Linked DNA regions of Homo sapiens: region 2 is linked to region 1. Evidence: fine-mapped expression QTL. A gene starts in region 1. The other region holds a variant in brackets. All regions are shown on one strand. Distances are between the middles of the regions.

Region 1 (12,075 bases):
CCAAAGCCTGGGAAGATGTTAACCAACTATTTCTCTAAACAGCTTACATGAGATTGTAACATTGCCTTCAAACCTGTCACCTGGTAATGAAATAGAGAAGAGTCAAAAAGGGCTCTGAAGACCACAAGAGGAGTTAAGAAAATAAAGAGACTGACAATAAGACAGGATGAAATATAAAATACGAAATTCTGTAAAACAGGCTGCATGAAAACCATATGGTAAAAATGGACAAAAAACAGAAGAAAGGAACTGTTTACATATTCTAAGGAGACTAATCATGGAGGCAAAAATGAAATATTAGAAATGAACAGGATAAAACTGATTTTGCCATGTATAAAAGTCTAACTCTTTAAGACTTAAAACATGCTTATCTGAATTGAAACATCATAAAAGCATAATTTCATATATACGTTATATGAATAAATGATGGAAGACATACAGAGTGACCGAAAATGACACATATAATAGTCCAATAGGTACCTACCAAGACAGTAATGTTCTTTTTCTCTTGCTTCCCATTTGTGGCTGTCTACATAGGCTGAAGAAAGCAGGTATCTTTTACCTGAGAAAATAGGCAATTATTTCAACACACATGGTTTTACAAGAGGTTCATTTTATATGTTTTATTAAATATATCTTCACTATCCTTTCAACTACTAGATTATATATTTTAAATAATCTAATACAGTACAGCAACCAATATCGCATAGTTGACAATTCAGTGAAGAACAAAATGCATTCAACCCCTAACAAGTGAAGATGCAGAAAAACAGGATTTTCACAATAATTTTTTAAATAAAATAAACAGGGTCTTGCTATAATGCCCAGGCTGGAATGCAGTAGCTATTCACAGGCACAATCCCACTACTGATCGGCACAGGAATTTTGATGTGCTCAGTTTCCAACCTGGTTCACCCTTCCTGAAGCAACCTGGTAGTTCCCTGCTCCTGGAACGTCAATCATCCTATCGATGCCAAACTTAGTGTGGACACTTGATCGGTATTGTGCACTACAGCCCAGAACTCCTGGGTGATCCTCCTGCCTCAGCCTCCCAAGTAGTTAGCATTACAGACACATACCACTGCGCTATGCCCATAATTTTATGGATAAAACTGCTAATTTTGTTCCTATAACTTTAAGACTAGGAGCCACTTGTTGCTAGTAAATTATAATCCAGGCAAGCCCTAGAACACCTTCTTAGAACCAAAAACACCTGCTGACTGTTGCTTAACTCATTAATTAAATGCTTTATAATTATTATGCCTAAAAAACATTTTCATCTTAGATCCACAGGTTTCAATCATTTCACATAAAGCAAGGAGTAGTATCTTACCCAATGAGCCAGCACCCTAGTGGTAAATTAAAGAAACTCACAAAGCCAAAGCTGAGGTAACGTACAAGATAGCATACCACTATTCCTAGCTCCTGGCACAATGCCTAGCCTTTGGCAGTGTTTAACAAACATGAGCTCAAGGAGTGAATGAGAAAGAATGAATGGCAAGTTCATCAAAATTTAAAACTTTTGTGCTTTGAAGTACAATCTCAGGAAAGTGAAAGTACAACCCAAAGAACAGGAGAAAATATTTGCAAAACATTTATCTAGTACAAGACTTGTATCCAAAATATTTCAATAAATCTTACAACTCAAAAATAAAAAAAAAGACAACCCAAATGAATGATGGGTAAAGGATTTAAACAGGTATACCTTTAAAAACATATATACACTGAGGTGGGTGGATCACTTAAGCTCAGGAGTTCAAGACCAGCCTGGGAAACATGGTGAAACCCCGTTTCTACAAAAAACACAAAAATTAGCCAGCCATGGTGGCATGCACCTGTAGTCCCAACTACTCAGGAGGCTGAGGTGGGAGAATCGACTGAGCCCGGGAGGCAGAGGTTGCAGTAAGTCAAGATCATGCCACTGCACTCCAGCCTGGGCAACAGAGTGAGACTCTGTTTCGAAAAAAAAAAAAAAAGAAAAAGTAAAATATATATGTATACACACACAAATAGCTAATAATCATAAGGACAGATGCTTAACATAATTTGCCATTAGAGAAATGCAAAACAAAATCACCTGGAGAAACGAATGATACTCACTACAATGACCACCATCAAAAAACAGATAATGACAACTGCTGGGGAGGATGCAGAGAAACCAGAAACTCATACCTTACTGGAGAGAACATAAAACAGTGCAGCTGCTTTTTAAAGAATTTGGTAGCTCCTCAAAATGTTAACATGGAGTTACTCTATCACCCAGCAATTCCACTCCTAGGTTTACAACCAAGAAAAATGAAAACTTGTGTCCACAGAAAATTTGTAAACAAATGTTCACAGTAGTATTATTCATAACGGACAAAAAGTGGAAACAACCCAAATATCCATCAATTGATGAATAAACAAAATGTGGTCTATCCTTACAATGGAATAGTATTTGGCAATAAAAAATGAAGTACTGATACATACTACATGGGTGAATCCTGAAAACATGTTAAGTAAAAAAGACGCCAGTCACAAAAGACCACATATTATATGATTCCATTATATGAGCAATCCAGAATAGGCAAGTCTGTAGAGACAGAAAGTAGATTCATGGTTGCTAAGGGCTAAAGGTGAGGATCAGGAAAGCTAGAGGAGAAATGGGGAGCAATTGCAAATGGGCATGGAATTTCTTTTTGGGATAATGAAAATGTCCTAAAATAGCTTGTGATGATGGCTCCAGAACTCTGTGTTTATACTAAAACCTTTGAATTGTATACTGCATTTGTTGTTTCTTTGTTTGTTTTTGAGATGGAGTTTTGCTCGTTGCCCAGGCTGGAGTGCAATGGTGTGATCTTGGCTCACTGCAATTTCCACCTCCCAGGTTCAGGTAATTCTCCTGCCTCAGCCTCCAGAGTAGCTGGGATTACAGGCGCCTGCCACCATGCTTGGATAATTTTTTGTATTTTTAGTAGAGACGGGGTTTCACCATAATAGCCAGGCTGGTCTCGAACTCCTACCTTAGGAGATCCCCCAGCCTTGGCCTCCCAAAGTGCTGGGATTACAGGCGTGAGCCACCATGCCTGGCCTGAATTGTGTATTTTAAATGGATGAATTGTATGGCATGTGAATTATACCTCAATAACTCTGTTTAAAAAAATAGAAAAACAGCCAGGTGCAGTGGCTCATGCCTGTAATCCCAGCACTTTGGGAGGCCGAGGTGGGCGGATCACCTGAGGTCGGGAGTTCGAGGCGAGCCTGACCAACATGGAGAAACCTTGCCTCTACTAAAAATACAAAATTAGCCAGGCGTGGTGGTGCATGCCTGTAATCCCAGGTACTTGGGAGGCTGAGGCAAGAGAATCCCTTGAAGCCAGGAGGTGGAGGTTGTGGTGAGCCGAGATCACGCCATTGCATTCCAACCTGGGCAATAAGAGCGAAACTCCGTCTCAAAAAAAAAAAAAAACAAACAGAAAAAATGACAGATAATTATGCTGAGGTCACAGCAGACCAAAAGCCCAACACAACTAGATAGCATGGGGGCTGATTAAACACAGTATTGGAATGCTGTTTTTATTCTCTACCTACTTTCCAGCTCAAACAAATAAACAAATACAAACACATCTGTGTGAATTTATACACAGTTCATTCTCTTACTGTGAACACAGATCTTTACTAGAATAATATATCTAAATTTGAGTTCTACAAATTAAATAATGAGGCAACAATAAGGTTTCCAAAGACGCTTTCAAAAGGAGAACTAAGAAAAGACTATAATTATTTAAATTAATTTCCATTTATTTTTTCGTTTTGGAAATGGAGTTTCGCTCTTGTTGCCCAGGCTGGAGTGCAATGGCATGATCTCAGCTCACTGCAACCGGAAGGCGGAGGCCTTCCAGGTTCAAGCGATTCTCCTGCCTCAGCCTCCTGAGTAGCTGGGATTTCAGGCATGCGCCACCACGCCTAATTTTGTATTTTTAATAGAGACAGGGTTTCTCCATGTTGGCCAGGCTGGTCTCAAACTCCTGACCTCAGGTGATCCACCCACCTCAGCCTCCCAAAGTGCTGGGATTACAGGTGTGAGCCACCACACCCGGCCTAATTTTATTTATTATTATTATTTTTTTGAGATGGAGTATCTCTCTGTTGCCCAGGCTGGAGTGTAGTGGCATGATCTTGGCTCACTGCAACCTTTGCCTCCAGGGTTCAAGCAATTCTCCTGCCCCAGGGGGATGGTTCTAGAATACCCCCTCAAATACCAAAATCTGAGAATGCAGAAGTCTCTTACATAAAATTGCACAGTATTTGCAAATAACCCACAAACATCCTCCTGCATTACTTTAAGCTGGGGTGTCCATTTTTTTGGCTTCCCTGGTCACATTGGAAGAAGAACAATTGTCTTGGGCCACACATACATAAACTACACTAACACTAATGATAGCTGATGGGCAAACAAACAAAACAAAAAATGCTAAAAATCTCCTAATATTTTAGTTAAGTTTACAAATTTGTGTTGGGCCACATTCAAAACTGTCCTGGGCTGAGGGTTGGACAAGCTGCTTTAAGTCATTTGTAGATTACTTATAATACCTAACACAATGTAAACGCAATGTAAGTGGTTGTCATGTTGTATTTTCTTTGTATTATTTTACTGTTGTATTATTTTTTATTGTTAGTTTTTGTTTTGTTTTGTAGTATTTTGATCCGCTGTTGGTTGACTCTGCAGATGCAGAATGCTCGGATAAGGAAGCCAACTGTACTCCCGCATACCAGCTACTTGCTTACTCTCTATTTATTATCTGTTATTCTCTATGCCTTCATTCTAGCATATGCTTCATTCTAGCATAAGTAATCACCTTTCTACATTCTGGAGTCAGGACAATATCTAGATCATTGCTCAAGAGTTCTGAACTGGGAGATTAAAAAGCTGGGCCAGCTGGGCACAGTGGCTCACGCCCGTAATCCCAGCACCTTGGGAAGTAGAGGCGGGTGGATCACCTGAGGTCAGGAGTTAGAGACCAGCCTGACCAACATGGAGAAACCCCGTCTCTACTGAAAATACAAAATTAGCCGGGAGTGGTGGCGCATGCCTGTAATCTCAGCTACTCGGGAGGCTGAGGCAGGAGAATCACTTGAACCCGGGAGGCAGAGGCTGCAGTAAGCCGAGATCGTGCCATTGCACTCTAACCTGGGCAACAAGAACGAAACCCGAAAAAAAAAAAAAAGGCTGGGGAGGTGATTGTGGGGAAAGACAGGTCTCCCAAAATGCCCTCTGTGTGTAGTTGTTCACGGAAACCACATAAACAGAAAATAGCTACAACAGCTAATTCTTACTAAGGTGTCAAGCGTTGTGCATAACACTGCCTAATGTGTGACATTAAACGTTTTCACCAGGTCAGCCACTTAATCTTCAGAAAACTGGTGGCCAACTCTGAGGTTTCACATTGACGTTTAATGGCTGTTCCTAAAGAAGTGCGTGCTTTTTAAAAAAATAGAGGATGGGAGGTAGGTTGGAAAGGGAAGATAAGCGGCAATGGAAAAATCGAGTGTGATTATTGCATTTTTATCAAATATGTCTGTCTGGATTATGTGGTTAGAATCACTGCAAATTTGGCTTCTATAAATACTTTAAAACTTTTTTCCAATGTTTTCATTATCAGATCCACTATGCAGGCTTTGAGTGGGCTGCCATTTAGTTCAGATATCAAAGTATTTTACAAGTAACTAATAGCATTTATTATCTACACGTGGAAAACTATAGCAAAGAAAGGTCAATCAAAAGTTGTGCTCTAGGTCATCAGATAAAATGAGATTAATACTGAAAAATTCTTCCACGAAGACCAGGGGTCCAGCTAAATGTGTGGTGGTGGGAAAAATGTTTATCTGACGTCCCTCTAAAGAAACCTCAGATGGGAGAAAAATGTCCCAGCCCCAGGAATGGACACATTTAGGTTTTTCCTTTTTTTTTTTTTTTTTTTTTTTTGAGACAGGGTCTCGCTCTGTTGCCCAGGCTGGAGTGTAGTGGCGCGATCTCTGCTCACTGCAACCTCCGCCTCCCGAGTTCAAGCGATTATCCTGCCTCAGCCCCCCGAGTAGCTGGGATTACAGGCGCGCGCCACCAGGCCCAGATAATTTCTTTGTATTTTTTAGTAGAGATGGGGTTTCGCCCTGTTGGCCAGGCTGGTCTCGAACTCCTGGCGATCCGCCCGCCTCGCGTTCCCAAAGTGCTGGGACCACAGGCGTGGGCCACCGCGCCCGGCGCACATTTGGGTTTTTCGTGGTCAGCAAAAGCACGACCACCCCAACACATAAATCTGGCGAATCATACGCAAATTCCCTCATGCTATATAACCTTCCACTGCTCTTCGTACCTTTGGACAGGAACATACTGTTATTTTAGGGAAGGAAATGGATCAGATACCTTGTCTCCTTCTTCTGCACTACCAAACACCCCAAATGGCGTCCCTAGCAATCAGATTCCAGAAACGTTTCCTCTCCTCTTGAAAGCCCACCGCTCCCTTCACCCAAAAAACAGAATAATCAGGGGCCTAATGAAGCTGTCCGGCCAACCTGCAGGAGAGAGCTGAGGAAGAACCACTTGCCGCGCCAGGAGCATCCCGCGCCGCACTATGGAGGCAGCCATCTTGGAGCGTACCAAAAGGAACAGCCAACGGGTTACGGACAGAGGAAGGGGCGGGGTTACAGCTCGACCTCTCGGGGCGCCCAGAATTGGACGAATCCCTTTTGTCGCTCTCGACGACAGGACCGACGCTCCGCCTCCTCGCCCCGGTTCCAGTAGTTGGTATGGTCCGAGACAGTATGGCTGCTGCATTTCGGCCCTCGAATCGAGTTCTCCTGCAGGCGCTGCAGATTTTGGTGTATCCTGGGGTGGGAGGCTCCGGCTCTGTCAGCTGCCGCTGCCCTCTCGGAGGTATCCGCGGCTTTAGCCTAGGGAAGGAGGGGAGGGATGGGAGAGAAGGGAGTGTTAGATCCCAGCTAGCATCTCTGTGGAGCAGCCACAGCTCCTAAGTCACTCACTGGCCTGGAGCGCACCCTCGCCCTCTAGTTGCACGTGGGTGCAGTGGTGACCACTGGGGGTCGTGGATACCCCCAGTGCCTGCAAATCGAAGGACTGCTGGGGTATTGACCTTGGGGCTGTAGTGCTCCCTCAGATGGGGCGACGTTCGTCTTCAGGAACATCCCTCCCGCCTTGGGTGACTTTTATTTATTTATTTATTTATTTTTGAGACGAAGTCTTGCTCTGTCGCCCAAGCTGGAGTGCGGTGGCGCGATCTCGGCTCACTGCAGCCTCCGCCTCCCGGGTTCAAGCGATTCTCCTGCCTCAGCTTTCCGAGTAGTTGGGACTACAGGCGTGCGCCACCACGCCCGGGTAATTTTTTGTATTTTTAGTAGAGACGGGTTTCACTATGTTGGCCAGGCTGGTTTCGAACTCCTGACCTCGTGGTCCACCCGCCTCGGCCTCCCAAAGTGCTGGGATTATAGGAGTGAGCCACCGCGCCCGGCCTTTTTCTTTTCTGCAGAGTTTGGAAGCAGAGGTCTTATGGAGTCTCAGTTCTGCTAACAATCTAAAAGACTTAACGGCACGTTTCTTCATTTTTCAAAACTATCCTCTAACATCTCTATGAAGAGAGTTAAATCTGAAGATGCTAGTGAGTGATAGTAAAAATGTTTGTCAGGCATTACTTTAATGTAGTTTACATACATTAATTCCTTTTCTCTAGACAACACCCAGCAAGAGAAGTACCATTCTTTTCTCCATTTACAGAGGAGGAACAAGGTTAAGTAATTTGCCCAAAGTCAGAGGGAACTGTTAGAGGTGGGATTTGAACACACCCAACAATAGAAACCTGCTCCTAACCACTTCACTGGACTGCCTTTCTGTAAATAAATAGCAACTTTTATTGTTACCTTGTTACTGCAGCTCACAGAACTCTGTTAGTGCGTGATTCTTCGGCCACGCTTGGTCCGTTTTATCTCATGCACAGCCAAGGATCCTAAAGAAAGGATGATGTTTCCCAAATCTACTAAGCTGTGATCAATGATTTCCATGTATCTCAAATGTATTTTGAGTCCACATCTGAGAGGCCTTAACCCCCTCATTTCACAGAGGACAAAACTGGGAGTTCCAGTGGTCATGCTGCAGCTTTTTCCACTACACTGTGCTTCTCCCTGGATAAACCAAAACTAAATATGCCTGTTTTGCATTTAAATGTTATTAGTTTTTTTTTTAAATGCCCTTGATACCCTTAACCGATGGCAAATGCCCATTTGTACTTCAAATCCCAACTTCCTGTCAACCAGTCCCCACACAGGTTTATCACTAGCTACGGTTAATCACTAGCTTCTTTCACACACACAAATAAAACCTGTTTTGCTGAGGATTTGCATTCTCTGGTAGTTCAGAAATTGTTTTTCCCAGGATTTATATTTGTACAGTTTGTACAGTTATATTTGTACCTGTCTAATGGATTATCTATAATAGATGTTAGAGGTAATCCAGCTCTATTCATGTTATTTGCTAACTTCTAAAACAGTCAAAATGACTTTACTTTTTTCTTTCTCTGATTTTTAGCTAAAAGATACCTACTTACAGATAATGTGGTGAAATTAAAAGAATTTCAACAAAAGAAAGTGGCTGTTGCATGTAATCTTTCTGGCACTAAAGGTAATAGAATCTATTTTGTTAATTCTGTCATTTATCTGTCATTTAAGTTTCTCTGTCTTTATCCCTATTCAGTGTCTCCTTCAGTGACTTTATTATGCCTTAGAAAAAGTTGAGACCATTTATTGTTAGTTTCATAGTGAACTCTTATATTTATCTTGCATTTCATACTTTGCTGCTACAACGTCTACAGCTCTCCTCTTATTCCTTCTCTTACGATCCCAGAGAAGTATTAAAGCTAGTGCTGCGATTGGTCTTGTCTAAATCTGTGCCATTAAAAGTGAGGTTTGAGGACCAGCGGCATCAGCATCTATTGGGTGGTTGATAGAAGTGCAGAGAGAAAGGCCCCAGATCATTCATATGCACAATAAAGTTTAAAAACTTCAGATGATTGGCTTTCAAACTTTTTGATGTAACCTTCAGTGAAAAATGCATTTTATGTTGCATCTCAGTACACACAAACATATCTATATATAAATGAAATCAAATGAAACAAAACAGTACTATGTGTGATGATACATTTGGTATTTTTCACTCTGTGCTAGAAAAGTCAGTAGGATCAAAAATTTCTTAAAAAACAAGAGAAACCTGACTACCAAACCTAGGATTTGGCTGGGCATGATGGCTCATGCCTGTAACTCCAGCACTTTGGGAGGCCAAGGCAGGAGGATTGCTTGAGCCAGGGAGTTTGAGATCAGCCTGAGCAGCGTAGACCTCATCTCTACAAATTTTTTTAAAGTTAGTTGGGCGTGGTGGTGCATGCCTGTAGTCACAGCTACTCCAGGGACTGAGGTGGGAGGATTGCTTGAGCCTGGGAGGTCTAAGGTGCAGTAAGCCATGATCACACCACTGCACTCCAACCTGTGTAACAGAGTGAGACCCTGTCTCAAAAAAAAGATAAATCTGGGATTTGCTTTGAAAAAAAATCCAGTGTGTTTGAGGATTGTAGTGTAGAGGAAACATAATTAGCAAAATATTGATAATGATTGAGGCTGGGTAATGGCACTTAGTGAGGGGGATTATTATCCTGTTCTTTCATTTCTTGGGTATGTTTGAAAATTTTTGTTATAAAAAGCTACAAACAAGAACACCACCCTAGGTCTTTTTCCCTTTCAGCACCTGAAAAATCTTGTGCATTCATTCTCTCCCTCCTGCACATAGAGTTCTTCCCAGCATTTCATACCTTTTATTGTGTGTGGATGCAGCAGTGGTCCCTGGGGGTTGTGGATATACCTCCTTGATCCTCCTTTATGAACACATCTAAGACTTTCCTTTTTTTTTTAATAACTCTTGGTGTCCCTACTGACTTTTTCAACCATAGACCCAGCTCTCCTTCCTCTCACTGCCAGATGTTTGTGAGCTCCTGATTAACACATTAACATTCTCTTTGTTTTGGTTTGTTTTTTAAGAGACAGTCTCGCTCTGTCACCTAGGCTGGAGTGCAGTTGGCACCATCATAGCTCGCTGCAGCCTCAAACTCTTGGATTCAAGCAATCCTGCTTTAGCCTCCTGAGTAACTAGGACTACAGTGCCACCATACCGCCTAATTTTTAATTTTTAATTTTTTTTTGTAGAGATGGTCTCACTGTGTTGAGGCTGGTCTCGAACTCCCAGGCTCAAGCTAGTATCCCGCCTCAGTCTCCTAAAGTACAAGCGTGAGCCACTGCACCCATCCTGATACTTTCTGCCTCCATTCCCTCACAATTCAGTCCTCCAGAAATCAATGTTCTCTCGCTGCTCCGCTAATCATACTGTTATATAATACCATATAGGGGGCAAAAAAATAAACCTTTGGAATGGGGGGAATATATTTATCCCCAGTTGAGTAGGCTCAATCTAGATTTCACTTCAGTCTTTTCTTTCTACCCAGGTATTTTAGATCTATGTGAGGTTTGCAGTTAGGGCTTCATGTCATCCAGTTGTGATTTCCAGTTGTCATAGTCTTCATAAGTCTGTGGCAGTTGTGTACATGTTCTGAAAGGCAATTAATATAATCAGTGCCAATCTGCTCTATTGTCAGACTGATATGTTTAAAGTCCTGTCAACCTTTCATCATTTTGAGAGCCCACAGTGGTACTCTGTTGTATACCACACTATTAACATACTCATCTCTCTGGCATCCTGGCTCTCCCGTGATGGACTCCGCCCTTTCTAGGACGGTTTCTGGTTGATCTAGTCACAGCTTTTCCCTCCACACCTGTCATTCCCAGTTCTGTTCTGTTGCTCATGCTGATTTCCTTACCTAGAATATCCCCCTCCTCCATTTCTCCAACCTGATTTCAGCCCTTTCCTTTCTCACTGGTACCCCTCCACTTTCACCAACCTGGTCTGTTCTGAGTCATAATAGTAAAGGTTGTAACAGGACTCTTCTGTCCACTCTGAGTTGTAATAGGTGTCGTAACAGGACAGAAGAGTCTTATTATGTTTATAGTATTCATGTGTCACCTCCTCCATCATTGTTTTCAGGTAGCTTTGTATAAATTTAGCTTGCCCTCCCCAAAATGCTTTTAAGTTCTTTGAGGGCAGGAACTATTCCTTACGCTTCTTGGTGTCTCACACACAAAGAAGGATACTTCCGAGTATGATTATATGATAAACAAATGTTGATTGATTTGTTTTAAAACACAAGTTATATCTGTTGAAATACTGGATTCTTAAGGTGTTGTTTTTTTTTTTTCTGAGACAGAGTCTTGCTCTGTCACCTAGGCTGGAGTACAGTGGCATGATCTCGGCTCATTGCAACCTCTGCCTCCCAGGTTCAAGCAATTCTTGTGCCTCAGCCTCCCTAGTAGCTGGGATTACAGGCGTGCACCACCACACCTGGCTACTTTTTGTATTTTTGGTAGAGACGGGGTTTCACCATGGTGGCGAGGCTGGTTTCAAACTACTGACCTCAAGTGATCCACCCACCTTGGCCTCCCAAAGTGCTGGGATTACAGGCCTGAGCCACTGCACCCGGCCTCTTAAGGTTTATTAAGGAGGATTAAGGAGTACAAGATGTAACGTCATCTCTTTGATGACTTGAGACTTTTTAGACTGGAAGTTGCTTAGAAATATTTAATAGACTAAATCCTCTTAGATCTAACAGGTGACACAAGGAATGAAAATGAGAACAATAATGTTTCTATTTACTGGCAGTTACCGAATGACAAATGCTTTACATATATCATCTCAGGTAACCCTGTGAGGAAGGTACCACGATCCTTAATTTACACATGAGGAATCAAGTCTCAGAGCAAGGGTCTCCATCAGAATGCAAGTGGCCGAGCTTAGATTTCAGCCCAGGTCCTTCCATCTCTAGAGCCTTTAACTGTTACATGGTTCTGCAAATAAAAATTGGAAGAGCCACTGCATTATCTCAAACCTAGTAGGTCTTTTCTTTTAAATTGAGAACAGTGCCTCTGCTTCTA
Region 2 (12,075 bases), 130 kb before region 1:
ATCTCAAAGATTGCTATTTAGGGGCAGCCTTTTCTTTATATTCAATGTCAAGCACCTTACTGATGCCACTGGAGACTGCCGTGGAGCTGTGTGTGTGCTTGCTGCACGCCTTGGAAGGGCATATGGGAGGGGTTGGTTTGGGACCCTAGTTTGGAACACCGTGCTTACTGAGGAGGCCACTGGGGAACCTGGACTGTACATGGTGATTCAGCCTGTGAGATAGTTCCGTCTTCCCTGGTTTCGCAGACCACGTGCTGCTAGCAGACATTTCTAACAGCTGTGGAACAAATGATTACCAGCTGTGAAGACTGCTTTGAAAAAGAGGAGGAAACTAGGGGGAGAAAGTCAACTATCGCTACTGTCGTGATTGTAGAGAAACTTTGAAAATGGCATTCTTGGGCAAACTGATAACTACACTTATTGGCTTTGTGGATGATCCTACAGCCAGGGATCCATTCAACCCTCCCGTGCTCTTCTGGCCTCCAGGAGAAATTAGACCTTTGGGGAATGAATGCTTTTTGCTGGTAATAAACTCCCATGGCTCCGAAGGCTAGCCCTGTCCTGAAGGTGGGATGGCAGCACTGCCCATGGCTCAGGGCCTACGTTCTGTGCTTTATTTCAGGTGCGCTTAATGATCACTGATGCTGCCCGACACAAGCTGCTCGTGCTGACCGGGCAGTGCTTTGAAAATACCGGAGAGCTCATTCTCCAGTCCGGCTCTTTCTCCTTCCAGAACTTCATAGAGATTTTCACCGATCAAGAGGTAGGTTCGTGTCTGAGAATATCTGTGCTTCTAGTGGCTTGGTTGCCTTAGGTTCCTCTTTGAGAGCACTGGGGGAGACAAAAGAAGAAGGGAGGGAACCTCACAGCTCTCCTGAAATAAGCAAAACTGCATGATCCAAAATACTTTATTTCTATGGCTCATTGCCAAAAGAATTTAGAGCACTCATTTACAATTAATTGGAATCATTCTTAATGTGCCTGAGATATAGATGGGAGGGGTTGGAACAGTCAACACTTTACAGATGGTAAAAATGATGGAGAAACTTGAAATGTCAGAGCCCAAAAGAAAACCTGCGTTTCCTGTTTTCTGAAATAATACTCCAAAGATATCTGGGGCTTTTGGCACCTCGTTTTCCAGGCCTAATTATTTCAGATTTCTTTTACTTTAATGCCTGGCCCCAGTGTTTGAACTTGGGCTGTTTGAACAGCCCACAAAAGAGAGAGGGCTTTACAAAAGGAGCCACGTAGGAAAATGGGGCACGTCTGTGACCCAAGAAAAAGATGGCTAAAGTAGCTGGACTGAAGCTGGATCATTCATATTTCTAATGCGTATCTTATTCAAAGATGACACATATAAAGTGTTGAAAACTGTGTGAAGTTAGTCGTATTTTGTAAAATGAGATCAAAGATTTTGATATGCTTATTTCTGCTTGGGAATTTATCCTGGCTGGGAAACTTTCCAAAGTAATGCACCTTGTTTATCTAGCTTACATGTTTATAGCAATTACAGAAACAATTCAGACCCATCCCCATAGCAGGTTGGGGCCTGCCTGTGGCCGATAGCAGATTTCTACATGGAGGGACTGAGGGATGTTCTGATAAGAAGAGTCCCCACATCTGTTTAAAACTGTCTTTCTGAGGTGGTGGCTTGTCTGTCTCATGTGTACTGTGAAGGGCCACGTGTCCTTCTGCACTTAATTTTCCTTGGCCCTGAGGTTCAGAGAAAGCTCTGTTTGTACTTTTCATCACTGGCAAGAACTGTAAGCACACTGCCCAACTTCATCTGAGTCACCTGGAGGCTTCTTTAAAAACACTGATCAGAAGGCATAATAATGTTCACTCTCCAGCCACTGGGGTGGGGAGAATGTAAAACTGTGAAAAGGAACATTTTTGAAGCCACAGCTGTCAGAAGGTGTGGCGTCATCTGCATCTTGAAACACATACCAGGATGGGATCCCCCAGGCAGGCAGCTCCTTTCTCAGAGGCTTCAGAGCTCACTCACAGTTGGTTCATCTTTACCACTTCAAAATGCAAGCTTTGGCTGTGTCTTCTTCCAAGGCCGCTAGAGTTCACGCATCTTGCCTCATTCATCTCGGTATCCATTGCACCTGCACATAGTAAAGGCCTAGTAAGCCGCTGTTCAATTGCATTGAAATTCCAAAGCTAGGGCTACAATTCTCACTCTGCCTACTGTCCTGAAGTTGTTGTTTGATCACTATAATGTCAGAATGTTTTGCAAGATTATGTCCCCATGTGCATGTTGTACCCGGAGGCAGGTGGGCATTTGTCTAGTAGCTCTGGGGTCACACACATTATTAGCATCTTGCCTCAGGGAAGAGAGAAAGCTGCAGAAGGCTGGAAGTGGCCCAATGACATGGTGAGCAGTTAAGTGGCCTGCTTATAGCTCATTTGCATGCACATGGGCACTTTCCACATTCCTGTGCAGTTCTGTAGTTATTTTCTAGTGGTTGGTTTCTACCCAAGTCATTGGTTTGTCTTTTTTGCCGAAAAACCAGACAAAGGAAATATGTAAAGAAAAGTGTCATTGCCAAGATTTTCAATAAGGAAGTAACACGATTTGGCATATTTGCATCTCAAATAATATCCCTCCTTCCCCTTCTTTAAATAAGGTTGTTATGAATATTGCTGCTTAATCATTTTTACTAGATTATGGAAGCAAAATTTTAGCACCATGGACTGTGCACGTGTCAGATTTTGCCACTAATTACAGAAAAAAAAATTTGCCCTAACTGAAGAACTCGAGTTCCGTGGAAGGGCAGATTCCCCAGGGTTTATACTTATTGGGGTAGGTTCTGGAGGACACATATTTTGATTATACTCAGGCAGGTATCATTATGGTCAGAGACCATGTCATATTCTCTTCTGCCACCCACAAAGAAAGGATGCCACAGCTAAAGTGAATTGAAAACCACTGGACTGGACCAGTGGTTATCAGCCTTTTGGAGCTAGGATTGCCCATTGTTGCCTTGGAAAAATGGTTGAGTAACTGAATAACAAACGGACCTTGAAGACCACTTGTTGTCCAGCTCTTTTCCTTTTATCCAGTCCTTGAAACATACTAGTTAACTCCAGGGAAACCAAAACCACAATTTGGGACAAACAAAAATGATACTTTTTAAAAAATATAAGAACAGCTAAAAATAAATGGACTGAAAAAATAGAACTATCAGTACACTTTGAGCTTCAGGTTTTGGAGTCTTAATCACTGGAGATCAATTAACAAAACCAGAACTAACAGACGGTACAATTGTCTGGCTAACCCCACTCCTCCCTGAAATCCAGGGATGGTGAAATCATCATCTCCTGGGGACATTTTTCAGTCTCTGTGTTGGAAAGTTTTTCCTTATTTGTCTCATTGTATCTTCAAGGAAGTGATGTGATCCCTTTCCCACCTACAGTGTCTTAGTTACCCTTCACCAACACTGCCGATTTTTTCCCTTTCAGATTAATCATCTTCAGTTTTACCCACAGTTCTTCATAACCCTGCTCACTGTCCTTCAAACTTGTTCCTCTGTCAAGAAAGGGAGGTGAAGGCCAGGTGCTATGGCCCATGCCTGTAATCCCAGTACTTTGGGAGGCCAGAGTGGGAGGATCACGTGCGGCTAGGAGTTCTAGGTTGCACTCAGTTATAATCTGCACTGCACTCCAACCTGGGCAACAGAGCAAGATTCTGTCTCTTAAAAAAAAAAAAACTATACTTAAAACATTAAAAAAATAAAATAAAAAGAAGAGGAGATGGGATGGGTATGGGGGGAATTCAGGAGTTTAGTCCTGGTCATGTTTTAGTGCCTTGAAATCAGACAGTTGGATTTATGAGAACAGAGCTCAGGGAACTCAGAGTCGGGCTGGAGATACTAATTTGAAATCCATTAGCATATTAGAGGTATTTGAAGCCCAGAAGACACATGATGTGACCTAGAGTGAGAAACATTTTAAGAAGAGAAAGGGCCCAGGTCCAGTGTTGACAGGTCATAAGGCCAAGAGGAAGGAGCCAGTAAGGGAGACTTGTTTCAGGTTTTTGCTTGTTGGTCTAATTTCTCTAAAATGTCATGACTCAAACTGGACACCCTATTCAGGAGTCATTTGACCAGGTTAGGATTGTGAGAGTTGATAATGTCTATAGTTTTCAATACCATCTTCTATTAAAGAAGTCTAAAAGTGACTTTTGACCATCACCATACACCATTAATGGTCAATGGGGAAGTCAATGGGGAAGAGATGCAGGCTTTGAGGGGCTCGACAATTTATATAATTTAAGGGCTCTTTTTTAAGAAAAATGAAACAATTATTAATATACAGTTAAGTACAGGGCCATGCCAATGAGGTACCTTGAAGTTTAAGCTTCTTTGGCTTCATGATAAATCCATTTGACTGTCAACTAAAATCCCTGAGTCTTTTCCATGGATATTATTGTTAAGCCACATCTCCCAATCCTGTAGTTTACCCTGCTGGTTTATTGAACCTTACATTTATCCCTTTAGAATGCCATCCTGTTAGAATTGACTTAGCCACCATCATCCCAATGTCAAGAGCTTTTATAAATACCTTAATTCTGCCATTCCACATTTTGCTGTGTCTCCCATTTTCATACCATGCACAAATATGATATGCATGCCTTCGCCATTTTTATCCAAGTGAATACAGGCCAGAAAATGAGACTTGAGGCAGCCCATCATAGACCTCCCTCCAGGTTGACATTAAGCAGCACTATTTATATGGCTGGCTGGAAATCCACCTAATTCTACTATCACACTGTTCAGGGGTCCTATTAAATGTCTGGCTAAAACCCAGAGATACACTGTCTACTGTATTTCCTCATCAGCCAAGCAAGTAACCTAATCAAAAAGGAAATGTAGTTCGTAGGCCATGGTTTAGAAATTCAAATCTTGTTTCATTAATCTCATCTGCAGTAAAACCATTTATTTCTTACATCTTCCTTCCTCTTCCAGTATGCCTGCATTTAATCAGAAAAAGTAATTAACAAAAAAGATTATCTTTGTCCCAAAGCATATTCCTCCTTGTTGCATCTGTCATCCAACTTTGTAAGAACCAGGGTAGCACTCAGTGTGGTTACATCTGAAGTACCCACTCCAGGAAGATAACATGTGTTGAACTGGCCAAGTTTGGCACACAGATCAACAAACATCTACTGAGCCTGATTATGTATTGAGGAAACAAAGATAACTAAGATACAAAGATACAGAAGATATATTTCCTGCTATCAGAAATGTTTAGAGTAGTGGGTTATAATAGTTACCATTTATCATGGTGATGATTTCCCAATTTGTTCAGAAGAAGCCTCAGTTTCCAAGTCTAAGAACTAGTCACAAGCTTCCTTGCCACTGCTAACATTGTTGGATCCTCCTTATGGTTCTCATCTATTCATTGAATAAGCTTGGTCAGGTGCTGCCGTGGGCTGGCCACTCTTAAGACCCTGTCTTTGCCCTTGAGGCACTCTCTACTGTGCTTGTTGGCCCACAGGTCTGGAAAGAGGCTGTGGGGGAAAACACGGGCTTCATTCTGTTGTGTAGTTCCAAGGATGTAGGAGTTGTTCTTCCTCCTCCTCCCTCTGCCCAATTCCATCTGTCTGTTTTATGACTGAGGGCTCTGTCCAGCCCTGTCTCTGCATTCTTGTCTCATCATTCAGAATGTGCTGCTGTTTCTTCAGAGGGACCAGATTTTCCTTCTCTGGAAAGAAACCTGTCAAAGCAATGCTGGCTTTCTTTTCTGCTTTGCCTTGTACATCACGGTTGTTCATTCACCAGTGTCTCTTGGCTATCTTTCATGACCTCTGACTTCTCAGAATTCTGTGCAATCTTGTTTTGTTTTGGGGTCATTTCCTGCATTTCATAGAAATTCTCTGGATAGAGGTGAAAAGACGGAAAGTAGGAAGATATTCCTTAAGTCTTTCTACCTTCTGCTTCAACCTGGTAATTACATACTTTACATAAAAAGAGCCAGTGATTGAATGCCCCCTACTCACAGCTGGATTATACCCTTGGCTGCCACACCTCTCAGCTAGGGTGGAATTTCAAAAATTAAAATGAACTAAACTTAATTTTTAAGTTTCACTATTAAAGATACAGCAGTTATTCTAGATTTGCCCCCTAAAACATATTATAAAACATGAATAGTTTGCATGTGCTTTGTGTGAAAATTGGGATCTAGAGACTTTTAATTGTGCTATAGTGATTGTGATGAGAGTCTCTGCTAACTATTGTACAAAAAACCATATTTGATGCCCTATGTTTGCTTTGGCCAGCAAATCATTTGAGCAAAGATGCCTGTCCCCTCTACCCAAAGATGGTATTACCATTTGCTTTTTCACTTTTCTTAGCTCCCAAAAACAGGAGTTGATTCTTATCCTTTTTACAGAAAATTGTGAAGTCACAGAAAAACAGCAAAGTTTTATTATTTTGTTATTTTGCGGCCCTTTACATAAAATGTTATGCTTAGGACTAATATGCTAACAAAACAAAAATGACTATTTTACTGCAATATTGCAGTCGAATATAGGAAAACTCAGATTCTATAAATTATTCTTACACACATTCATAATAGTAGCCTCAGAATGCTGATAGTCAGGAGATAGAGGAAACTAATCTAATACTAGAAGGTAAGAGTTCAGACCTGCTGGCTCAGGGATGCCTGGACCAAATGAAACCTTGGCTTTACCCCTTGATCATTTGTCATCCAGAATACAGAGCCCTTTTCAGTCGAAACTCTGAGCTGATTTGTGAGCTTTACTGAGACGGAAAGAATATTGGAGTTGATGGCATGATTCTCCATCACTAATTTGCTAGGCTAAGACCATGAAATATATGGCCATAATATGGAGTGAGAGAGACAAGTAGTGTTTTTATTAAACCACAATTTCTGTTTTGGTCCTGATTTGCTTTTCTATGTTTACATCCTTGGGAAGTACTAAACAATGTGTTGAAAAATGTTTCAGCCACATTTGATCTTAGCTGCTCACACCCAACTTGCCCTGAAAAGAATGGGAGCAGTAAGAGAACAGAGTGGCTCACTGTGGAGTTAAACATGAGCAAATGGGGAACGAACTTGGCCAAACCACTTTAATGTCATGGCTTTAATAAAAAAGTATTTGTATCTGCAGAGAATATGCTGGGTGACCCACTCATGTTTCAATCAGCGTGCACTGATGCCAGAAACCAGTAATTTTTTGTAGTAATAGGCAATCCGTAACTTCTTGTCTCCTATGGGGAAAAACCCACCAAGGTTTTTTCTTTTTTACATGCCAGATCCTGAAAGGAGGCCACAACAAGTGCCCTGTTAATCTGAATTTCTTTAAGGTATCCATCAGGCCTTTTT[T/A]TTTTTTTTTTTTGCCAAGTCTAGTGGAATAAAAGAAAATATTTTTTATTAGTGGTGAAATGACCCAGACAGCTTTCTCTTGTGATAGTTTAACGTTTTTTTTTAAAGGGCATCTTTGCCTTTATTCTAGGGGTAATATTCAAAGTGTTTCATAACCACTGCAGCACAATCCTCAGTTGCCCAGGTGGTCACTGGTGTTAGAACTGGAGCAGAGTACTGGCATTCCCCTGCTGGGCAGGAATAGATGGTGGAGGGGTTGTTGGGGAGGTGCCAGGGCGAGTGGGTACTGGTTGAGGTAGAAGCCAGTAGCAGCGGGGCTCAGGACAAAGGCTGTTCACCTTCCAGTAGGGAAGTATTTCAGCATTTAAGCAACCAACATCACTATGAGAGTGCATGTCTGAAACTGGTCCTATGTGCATCCTGTGATCCTGTAACACATAGTTATAGCTGGAGATGATGGATCAGTGATGATAATCACTTACACCTTTTCTTTCTTTCTTTCTTTCTTTAAAACCCAGATCGGGGAGTTACTAAGCACCACCCATCCTGCCAACAAAGCCAGCTTAACCCTGTTCTGTCCTGAAGAAGGGGACTGGAAGAACTCCAATCTTGACAGACACAATCTCCAAGACTTCATCAATATTAAACTCAATTCAGCTTCTATCTTGCCAGAAATGGAAGGACTTTCTGAGTTTACCGAGTATCTCTCAGAATCAGTGGAAGTCCCATCTCCCTTTGACATCTTGGAACCTCCCACATCGGGTGGATTTCTGAAGCTCTCCAAGCCCTGCTGTTATATTTTTCCAGGAGGGAGGGGCGATTCTGCCTTGTTTGCAGTGAATGGTTTCAATATGCTCATCAATGGCGGATCAGAGAGAAAATCCTGCTTCTGGAAGCTCATCCGACACTTAGACCGAGTGGACTCCATCCTGCTCACCCACATTGGGGATGACAATTTGCCTGGAATAAACAGCATGTTACAGCGGAAAATTGCAGAGCTCGAGGAAGAACAGTCCCAGGGCTCCACCACAAATAGTGACTGGATGAAAAACCTCATCTCCCCTGACTTAGGAGTTGTATTTCTCAATGTACCTGAAAATCTCAAAAATCCAGAGCCAAACATCAAGATGAAGAGAAGCATAGAAGAAGCCTGCTTCACTCTCCAGTACCTAAACAAATTGTCCATGAAACCAGAACCTCTGTTTAGAAGTGTAGGCAATACTATTGATCCTGTCATTCTTTTCCAAAAAATGGGAGTAGGTAAACTTGAGATGTATGTGCTTAATCCAGTCAAGAGCAGCAAGGAAATGCAGTATTTTATGCAGCAGTGGACTGGTACCAACAAAGACAAGGCTGAATTCATTCTGCCTAATGGTCAAGAAGTAGATCTCCCGATTTCCTACTTAACTTCAGTCTCATCTTTGATTGTGTGGCATCCAGCAAACCCTGCGGAGAAAATCATCCGAGTCCTGTTTCCTGGGAACAGCACCCAGTACAACATCCTGGAAGGGTTGGAAAAGCTCAAACATCTAGACTTTCTGAAGCAGCCACTGGCCACCCAAAAGGATCTCACTGGCCAGGTGCCCACTCCTGTGGTGAAACAAACAAAACTGAAACAGAGGGCTGATAGCCGAGAAAGTCTGAAGCCAGCCGCAAAACCACTTCCTAGCAAATCCGTGCGCAAGGAGTCAAAAGAAGAAACCCCTGAGGTCACAAAAGTGAATCACGTGGAAAAGCCACCCAAAGTTGAAAGCAAAGAAAAGGTAATGGTGAAAAAAGACAAGCCAATAAAAACAGAGACCAAACCTTCAGTGACTGAAAAGGAGGTTCCCAGCAAAGAAGAGCCATCTCCAGTGAAAGCCGAGGTGGCTGAGAAGCAAGCCACAGATGTCAAACCCAAAGCTGCCAAGGAGAAGACGGTGAAAAAGGAAACAAAGGTAAAGCCTGAAGACAAGAAAGAGGAGAAAGAAAAGCCAAAGAAAGAAGTGGCTAAAAAGGAGGACAAAACACCTATCAAGAAGGAGGAAAAACCAAAAAAGGAAGAGGTGAAAAAAGAAGTCAAAAAAGAGATCAAGAAAGAAGAGAAAAAAGAACCCAAGAAAGAGGTTAAGAAAGAAACACCGCCAAAGGAAGTCAAGAAGGAAGTTAAGAAGGAAGAGAAGAAGGAAGTGAAAAAGGAAGAAAAGGAACCCAAAAAAGAAATTAAGAAGCTCCCTAAAGACGCAAAGAAATCATCTACTCCTCTGTCTGAAGCAAAAAAACCAGCTGCTTTAAAACCAAAAGTACCCAAGAAGGAAGAGTCTGTCAAGAAAGATTCTGTTGCTGCCGGAAAGCCAAAGGAGAAGGGGAAAATAAAAGTCATTAAGAAGGAAGGCAAGGCCGCAGAGGCTGTCGCTGCAGCTGTCGGCACTGGAGCCACCACAGCAGCTGTCATGGCGGCAGCTGGAATAGCAGCCATTGGCCCTGCCAAAGAACTCGAAGCTGAGAGGTCCCTTATGTCATCTCCTGAGGATCTAACCAAGGACTTTGAAGAGTTAAAGGCTGAAGAGGTCGATGTAACAAAGGACATCAAGCCTCAGCTGGAGCTAATCGAAGACGAAGAGAAACTGAAGGAAACTGAGCCAGTCGAAGCCTACGTCATCCAGAAGGAGAGAGAAGTCACCAAAGGTCCTGCCGAGTCCCCTGATGAGGGAATCACTACCACTGAAGGGGAGGGCGAATGTGAACAGACACCTGAGGAGCTGGAGCCCGTCGAGAAGCAGGGAGTAGACGACATTGAAAAATTTGAAGATGAAGGAGCCGGTTTTGAAGAATCTTCAGAGACTGGAGACTATGAAGAGAAGGCAGAAACTGAGGAGGCTGAGGAGCCAGAAGAGGATGGGGAGGAACACGTATGTGTGAGCGCCTCCAAGCACAGCCCCACTGAGGATGAGGAAAGTGCCAAGGCGGAGGCTGATGCATACATCAGGGAGAAGAGGGAGTCTGTGGCCAGTGGGGATGACCGAGCCGAAGAAGACATGGATGAGGCCATTGAGAAAGGAGAGGCTGAACAATCTGAAGAGGAGGCTGATGAGGAGGACAAAGCTGAAGATGCCAGAGAGGAGGAATATGAGCCGGAAAAAATGGAAGCTGAAGACTATGTGATGGCTGTGGTCGACAAGGCTGCAGAGGCTGGTGGTGCCGAGGAGCAGTATGGATTCCTCACCACACCAACCAAGCAACTAGGAGCCCAGTCTCCTGGCCGAGAACCTGCATCTTCAATTCATGATGAGACTTTACCTGGAGGCTCAGAGAGCGAGGCCACCGCTTCTGATGAGGAGAATCGAGAAGACCAGCCTGAGGAATTCACTGCCACCTCTGGCTACACTCAGTCTACTATTGAGATATCCAGTGAGCCCACCCCCATGGATGAGATGTCTACCCCTCGAGACGTGATGAGTGATGAGACCAACAATGAAGAGACGGAGTCCCCTTCTCAGGAATTCGTAAATATCACCAAATATGAATCTTCATTGTATTCTCAGGAATACTCTAAACCTGCTGATGTTACACCGCTCAACGGATTTTCTGAAGGATCAAAAACAGATGCCACTGATGGCAAGGATTACAATGCTTCAGCCTCTACCATATCACCACCCTCTTCCATGGAGGAAGACAAATTCAGCAGATCTGCTTTACGTGATGCTTACTGCTCTGAAGTGAAAGCCAGCACCACTTTGGACATCAAAGATAGCATCTCAGCTGTTTCAAGTGAAAAGGTCAGCCCATCGAAGAGCCCGTCCCTGAGTCCATCTCCACCATCACCCTTAGAAAAGACCCCCCTGGGTGAACGTAGTGTGAACTTCTCTCTGACGCCCAATGAGATTAAAGTCTCTGCAGAGGCAGAAGTAGCCCCGGTGTCTCCTGAGGTGACCCAAGAAGTAGTTGAAGAACATTGTGCTAGTCCTGAGGACAAGACTCTGGAAGTGGTGTCACCATCTCAGTCCGTGACTGGCAGTGCTGGTCACACACCTTACTATCAATCTCCTACTGACGAGAAATCCAGTCATCTCCCTACAGAAGTCATTGAAAAACCACCAGCAGTTCCAGTGAGTTTTGAATTCAGTGATGCCAAAGATGAGAATGAAAGGGCTTCAGTAAGCCCCATGGATGAGCCCGTGCCTGACTCAGAGTCTCCTATTGAAAAAGTTTTGTCTCCTTTACGCAGCCCGCCCCTCATTGGATCCGAGTCTGCTTATGAAAGTTTTCTAAGTGCTGATGACAAGGCTTCTGGCAGAGGTGCCGAAAGTCCTTTTGAAGAAAAGAGTGGAAAACAAGGCTCTCCAGACCAAGTAAGTCCAGTTTCTGAAATGACTTCTACTAGTCTTTACCAAGACAAACAGGAAGGGAAAAGCACAGACTTTGCACCAATAAAAGAAGACTTTGGCCAAGAAAAGAAAACTGATGATGTTGAAGCCATGAGTTCTCAACCAGCACTGGCTCTGGATGAAAGGAAATTAGGAGATGTTTCTCCCACACAAATAGATGTCAGTCAGTTTGGATCTTTTAAAGAAGACACTAAGATGTCCATTTCTGAAGGTACTGTCTCAGACAAGTCAGCTACTCCTGTTGATGAGGGCGTAGCAGAAGACACGTACTCTCATATGGAGGGTGTGGCCTCAGTGTCCACAGCCTCAGTGGCTACGAGCTCATTTCCAGAGCCAACAACAGATGATGTGT

What was found. PIP is the estimated chance that this variant, and not a neighbour inherited with it, causes the effect. A credible set is the group of variants that fine-mapping cannot tell apart.
Region 2: its variant is the best candidate, but not a certain one, in a credible set for the expression of MRPS27 in whole blood (TOPMed, PIP 0.54).

Annotation. Positions count from the first base shown.
Region 1 is chr5:72,313,597-72,325,671 of GRCh38, forward strand. It overlaps MRPS27 (mitochondrial ribosomal protein S27), which reads right to left and starts at 6,644. Exons shown (of 11, transcript NM_015084.3): 1 at 6,553-6,644; 2 at 485-562. The coding sequence starts at 6,625. It overlaps PTCD2 (pentatricopeptide repeat domain 2), which reads left to right and starts at 6,777. Exons shown (of 10, transcript NM_024754.5): 1 at 6,777-6,913; 2 at 8,576-8,668. The coding sequence starts at 6,787. It also overlaps the pseudogene RN7SL153P. RefSeq lists enhancers at 5,695-6,236, 6,237-6,777, 6,376-6,705, 6,766-6,975.
Region 2 is chr5:72,185,992-72,198,066 of GRCh38, forward strand. It overlaps MAP1B (microtubule associated protein 1B), which reads left to right. Exons shown (of 7, transcript NM_005909.5): 4 at 623-763; 5 at 7,875-12,075. Among named protein-coding and RNA genes, the nearest start is that of MIR4803, 23 kb to the left of the region's middle. RefSeq lists an enhancer at 8,903-8,992. The variant T/A (reference allele first, on the strand shown) is at 7,357.